Regions from separate parts of the Homo sapiens genome. Here region 2 is reported to be linked to region 1. The links are microRNA targets in miRTarBase. Many come from high-throughput screens and were not tested one by one. Region 1 holds a microRNA gene; the other region holds the end of a gene's coding sequence.

Region 1 (3,000 bases):
ACATTTTAGATAACAACAGGTGACACAGGTGGGCAGAGCATGTCATATCTCAGTACCATGAAATCAGACCTCCTCTTTTGAACAGACATCTCCCCTTATCACAGTGACTTCTCTCTCTTTTGCCTGCAGCCCAGCGATCTGCTCACGAGCTGCCCATGGTTGAAAGACAAGACACAGACAGCTGCCTGGTCTATGGCGGCCAGCAAATGATCCTCACGGGGCAGAACTTTACATCCGAGTCCAAAGTTGTGTTTACTGAGAAGACCACAGGTCAGTGGATTTTTGAGCTCTTTCTCTGTCCCCCAGAATCATGCAAAAGTGACCATCTCTTTATTATATACAACTTTGGTTTTGGGGGGTAGATCCCACCGTGCAGTTTTATACCCTGCTCTTTTTACTCAGCGTGTCTTCAGGGATTGTGATGGCCATACCATTCGCCATTGCATGAATGTGCCATTCTACATTTTAACTCTTCTAGGTCATTTTGACAGAAAATGAGATTATCTCCCACCCTCAATCCTTTTTTTAAAATTACTTTTTTACATAAGGAAGGAAATTTTTAAAACTTTTTGCTATTATCAAGAAGGGAGGCCAAACAGCACAGTGATAAAGCATGCATACTCTGGCCCTGGATATCTTGGGTTCAAATTCTGGGTTTGTTATCTGCTTGCTTGGTGATCCGAGGCATATTACCTATCCGTTAAAATTTCTTACCCCATAAAGTTGTCATGGAGGTTAAATGAGCTAATACATGTCACGTAATTATAATAGTGCCAAGTACAGCATAAGCCAATTAATATTGGCTACTTGTATTTTTATTATAAGTAGTTCTGCAGTGAATCAGCTTATACTTCTAGGATTAATTAATCTTGTACATGAATCTATATGTATATCTTTTTAGTTTATTTAGGGTTTATTCCCAGCAGTGGAATTTTGGATAGTCATTCTGAGGACTTTAAATACATATTGCTAAATTACCTTCCAGAAATCTACAAATTGAAGTTGCCATCATGTCAGTCATAGTTTCACCCCCATCCCAGAAATGCCATTTTTTTAAATTAAAAAGGAATCATTGTGGAATTGGTACTTCTTTCTACTTTGCATTTCCTTGCTCTGAGACGCATAATGTTTTGTTTATTCACCACGTGTATTCTTCCTTTGGTGTACTATCGGTGTCTTTTTCAGTGGGTATGTGGTAGAAAAGATGCTGATCTGAAGTAGGAAAATATCAGATTAAGCAATAATTAATGAAACAAATGTGTTGTTAGAAGGAAATTAGCTCAAATAACTTGGGACACTTATTTTGGATACTAGAACCAATTTTCCTTTTCCTTAACAGACATGATTTCAGTAGGTTACTTCAAAGGGGTGTTGATGTTTGTCTATTTGTTTATTGTCCTTAGAACAATCCGAGAATATAACAGGTGAGTTGTCCAGTTGGAGGGATTGTGCACTGTACAAGGGCACCTCCTCTGAGGGCTGCCATTCAAATTGGATACATCACCAGTTTACACGTTAGTAAGACAACTTCTGGCAGGGGGAAGCAGACTGTCTTAGGCAAAGAGTGCTTCTTCCAGTCTCGCACAAATCATCCTTCTGGGATGGGCTGGACATGTGACCGGGGTGTGACAACTGCATTCTCACAGTTGGAAGCATAACAAGAGGCAGAATTTATTTTAAAAGGGTTTGATGACGCCTTTGCGAAAAATAACAAAAAAGGTATTAAGTAAGGCTGTGGCAGTGGGGAAGGGAGATGCAGGGATGGGTCGGGAGTGGTTTAGAAGGCAGATGTCACTGAGGTTTGATGGGACGTAGTGGTGTAGAGAGGCATTAAGAACGCAGGTGGCAGGGCCAGCCACCAGGAGGGCTGCGTGCCACCCGGGCAGCTCTGCTGCTCACTGGCAGTGTCACCTGCGGAAACTCTCCATCATCTATCCCCTGAAAAGCAGGGACAGTGACAGTGCCTACCCACAAAGGTAAGGTCTGAATGAATTAGAGCAAGTGGGCTTAGCACCGGAAGTGCTCGGTAAGGGGCAGGGGCTGCTGCTGTTTTTCTGGAGCTGCTGTGGATGGGGAAGGGGAAGAGGTTGAGTGTCGAGATTGTTTTGTTCACGTGGTGCACTTGGCCAGCTGAGATTTAGCACACAGGAGAGGAGGTCTGTGTGGGGATGAGGTTGGGCAGGGAGGACGGGTTTCATTTTGGAAGTGGAAGCGTTGAGTCTCATGTACCCATGGGCCTTCTTGGATGAACCATGATCTCACCTCTGTGGAAAGGCAAGAGATTGGTGGGTATGTGGCCACGTGGTCTAGACTAAGAAACCAGATCCTGGCTGCAGATGTTGTCATGGGAGCTGTCAGCAATGAGATCTGAGGTGAAGTCCTGGGAATTGGCTCCGACCTCCCAGGATGGCCTCCAGTGGGAGAAGGGGAGGCTTAGAGAACTGAGAGCCACATCCCTTAAAGGTGGCAGAGGAGGAGCTGTCACAGCAGGAGGAGGAGAACCAGGGGAGTCTGGTGCCCTGGAGACCAGGGGAAGGAGACTTGGGAAGGGTCAGCAGAGGCAGTGCTATGAAGGTCACAGAGCCCGAGGTCAGCCTGAGAGTCCAGTGATTGGGGGGCCTCTGGTGATTTGAATCACACGTACCCAGGTGGCAGTGAGTTGAGGAGTGAGCTGAGGAGTAGCGTTGCTTGAGGGATCAGAGATGATGAAGGTAAAGTCTGCTCTAGGCAAGAAGACTCTGCACCAGCAGTCCCCAACCTTTTTGGCACCAGGGACCAGTTGCATGGAAGACAGTTCTTTTCAAGGGTTGGGGAGATGGGCTGATGGTTTCAGGATGATTCAAGCACATTACATTTATTGTGTACCTTATTTTTATGATTATTACATTGTAATATACAATAAAATAATTATACAACTCACCATCATGTAGAATCACTGGGAGCCCTGAGCTTGTTTTCCTGCAACTAGGTAGTCCCATCTGGGGGTTGACGGGAGACAGT
Region 2 (3,231 bases), not on the chromosome of region 1:
TAAGATATAATATATATTATATTATGTATAAGATATAATATATATTATATTATGTATAAGATATAATATATATTATATTATGTATAAGATATAATATATATTATATTATGTATAAGATATAATATATATTATATTATGTATAAGATATAATATATATTATATTATGTATAAGATATAATATATATTATATTATGTATAATATATAATATATATTATATTATGTATAAGATATAATATATATTATATTATGTATAATATATAATATATATTATATTATGTATAATATATAATATATAATATATTATGTATAATATATAATATATAATATATTATGTATAATATATAATATATAATATATTATAAATAAGTTGGATGTGGTGCACACACCTGTGGTACCAGCCACTCTGAAGGCTCAGGTGAGAGGATTGCTTGAGCCCAGGAGGTCAAGGTTGCAATGAGCTATGATCGTACCACTGCATTCTGGCTGGGCCAGAGCGACACCTGGTCTCTAAAAATAATATGACTTCAAGTACACAGTTACTCATTTGAGGTAGTAAGGGGTGGCATAAACATCAACTGTTCCATCATTAAGTACACTGTGGCCTCTTTCTTGTCCTTCCACTATAGAGTAAATAGTAGTCAGATAACCCAGGATGTACAACAGAACTCAGACATGGACCTCTGCAGTGCTTATTTTGGCTCTGTAACTACTGAAAGAGATCTCAAATAAGGATCTTTTTAGAAACTTAAAGTAGTACTTCATAGTACTTAGTAGTACCAACACACGCTTTGGGTAAAAGGAAAATCCTTTATGAAAATGCAAACTTTAGGAATTAAATGCTCCCCATAGGGACTCACTTATTGCTGTATACGTGACTGCAGGCAGAAAAACACAATCTGAATGAACTTGTTTTTTTTCTTAAACTTGGAAAACCCAGAAAAGGTGAGTGGTATACAGGGGCCAATTAACATAAATAGCACGAGGAAAAATGAGAGGAAGTCACTCCTCTCCTCCCAATGGGAGTACTGTGTTTTGAAGGATTCATGAATGGAATTTCAGAAACTTGGCAAAAGAATACATTTACTTCACTTACTCCATATATATTCTGAATTTCATATTTACTAAATAAAGTGTTTCCAAATGAACATTTCTTTTTTTACATGTTACATGTAAAATTGTTTTACATGTAAAAACATGTACATCTTTTTAACATGTTACATGCAAAAAATCTTTTTACATGTTTGTTATATGTTGTTACATGTGAAAACTGCACATTAAAAAAAGGAAAGGCAGGCGAATTCATCATTCAAGTTTTTAGATGTCCATATAAACTTCCACATAATCCACGAATATTAAACTGGATAAACAAAGCACTCTACAAAATTTACCTTGCCACAGATGTGAAATAATTGTAAGCATACATAAATGTTAACAAAATGCTTTCATTCAATTCTAAGGGGAGGTATCATTGAATGATGGACCAAAACAAACTAAATAGCATTTTGATGTCTGTGGAAATGACATACCCACAAACCAGTGGCTCAGCACTGATATTAATATATCTTGCTCAGTTGCCTTAATCATTTACAGCAGTATAATTTTTTTTAAGAACACAGACAGTAAGGTGCTTTTAATAATTTTGATATGGCCATAGAGTATATCTATTTTTTGAAGTCCTACTTTCATTGGAATTGCCTCTTTATCCTAATGAGTAAATACAAAAGAACGCACAGATAAGATAGCTTTTGTCTTCTTCTTCTTGTTTTCTGAGAAAGAGTCTTGCTCTGTCGCCCAGGCTGGAGTGCAGTGGCACAATCTTGGCTTACTGCAACCTCCAACTCCCGGGTTCAAGAGATCCTCCTGCCTCAGCTTCCTGAGTAGCTGGAACTACACGTGCGTGCCACCACGCCCGGGTAATTTTGGTATTTTTAGCAGAGATGGGGTTTCACCATGTTGGCCAGGCTGGTCTCAAACTCCTGACCTCAAGTGATCCACTCCCCTCGGCCTCCCAAAGTGCTGGGATTACAGGCGTGAGCCACCACACCCAGCAGATATTGTCTTCTTTTATTAGAGAAAAATGTACTTTTCTATGCCTGTGCTTTCTACATTTTTGGAACTGATACAAATCCACAGAGGCCAAATCGAAATCTAAATTATCTTTAATGTTAAAATTTAATTGACCGTGTACATAACTATGCAATCCCTGCTTTCTCACAGAAGTGTCTAGGATTCATTCAACAGATCATAGAAACGAGGTCTGGCATTTAACAGACGAGTGACAGAGGAGCTATACCGATTTATACAACAATTATCAAAACACTGTCATGTAGTTTACTGTAGCTCAAGTTGTGCTTGTATCATATAACATAGGTTCAAGTTCTTTCTTCAGTCATCAGAATAACAGAGGTTGAAGAGACAACTGGGTAAGTGCCAACTTTTCCAAAAGCTGTTTCAAAAAAAAATTTAAGTAACTGTAATACACATTTCTGCAAATAAAATATTCCAGTGCTACATCAATCCTGAGTTTTTAATATTAAATATGCACTACTTACAGTTCTGACATGATTTTATTTAAAAACATGTCTAGTTATCAAGTTCACTGTCTTCATCGGAAAAAACTCTGTCACAAAGGTCTTCAAAGTCCTCAAGAGCCTAAAAGAAAAAGTCTAGTTCACTGACAAACCACCACTTTATATCTCGCATTTTAAACAGGGTTAATTAAATGTCAAAAGGAAACAGCTTTTAATATTCAAAGGATGCCAGTTATTCATTTCAAATAGAAAAAACTATAATCAATACATGGAGCTCCAAATACCCAATTAAATTTTTTAATGCCAGATTTCAGTGACATATTATTTTAGCAGGTCTAACAGTCATGTACTTTGCTTAAATAAAATGGGTTGAAGAACATCTTAAGGTCAAGATGGAGCGAAGACAGAAAAAGACGGGCAGGCTTATATCATGAAATATTATATTTTTTTTCAGCAGGTAGCGACCCATGTATTATCAGCAATAGCCTACATAACATGGTTTCCATTGAAGGGATAAAATGGTTGGTGATATGACCTCATCAAGTTAGAGAAAACGTAACTGTGTTTGAAATATATACTCTTTACTCAACAAATAGTTCAACAGTTCCTACTCCCTAAAATGTTGTAGGTTAATGCTGAGGAAGATGTAAAAAATGAATACACAATCTTCCGTATTTCTATGACATGAGCAAATGCACA

What was found. The annotated mature microRNA hsa-miR-3194-3p reads AGCUCUGCUGCUCACUGGCAGU and lies in region 1 at 1,885-1,906, shown strand. An mRNA with a match to its seed (bases 2 to 7 or 8) in the 3' UTR can be bound and repressed. Matches are read on the target gene's strand: a 7mer-m8 pairs with bases 2 to 8, a 7mer-A1 pairs with bases 2 to 7 and ends in A, and an 8mer does both.
Region 2: the mRNA of FAM9B is a reported target of hsa-miR-3194-3p. Seed matches in the 3' UTR shown: 7mer-A1 at 1,782-1,788.

Annotation. Positions count from the first base shown.
Region 1 is chr20:51,451,818-51,454,817 of GRCh38, reverse strand. It overlaps MIR3194 (microRNA 3194), which reads left to right and starts at 1,841; the gene lies at 1,841-1,913. It overlaps NFATC2 (nuclear factor of activated T cells 2), which reads left to right. Exons shown (of 11, transcript NM_012340.5): 6 at 130-270.
Region 2 is chrX:9,022,931-9,026,161 of GRCh38, forward strand. FAM9B (family with sequence similarity 9 member B) reads right to left here. Exons shown (of 9, transcript NM_205849.3): 8 at 2,554-2,653; 9 at 1,302-2,447. The coding sequence ends at 2,585. Among named protein-coding and RNA genes, the nearest start is that of FAM9B, 9.6 kb to the right of the region's middle.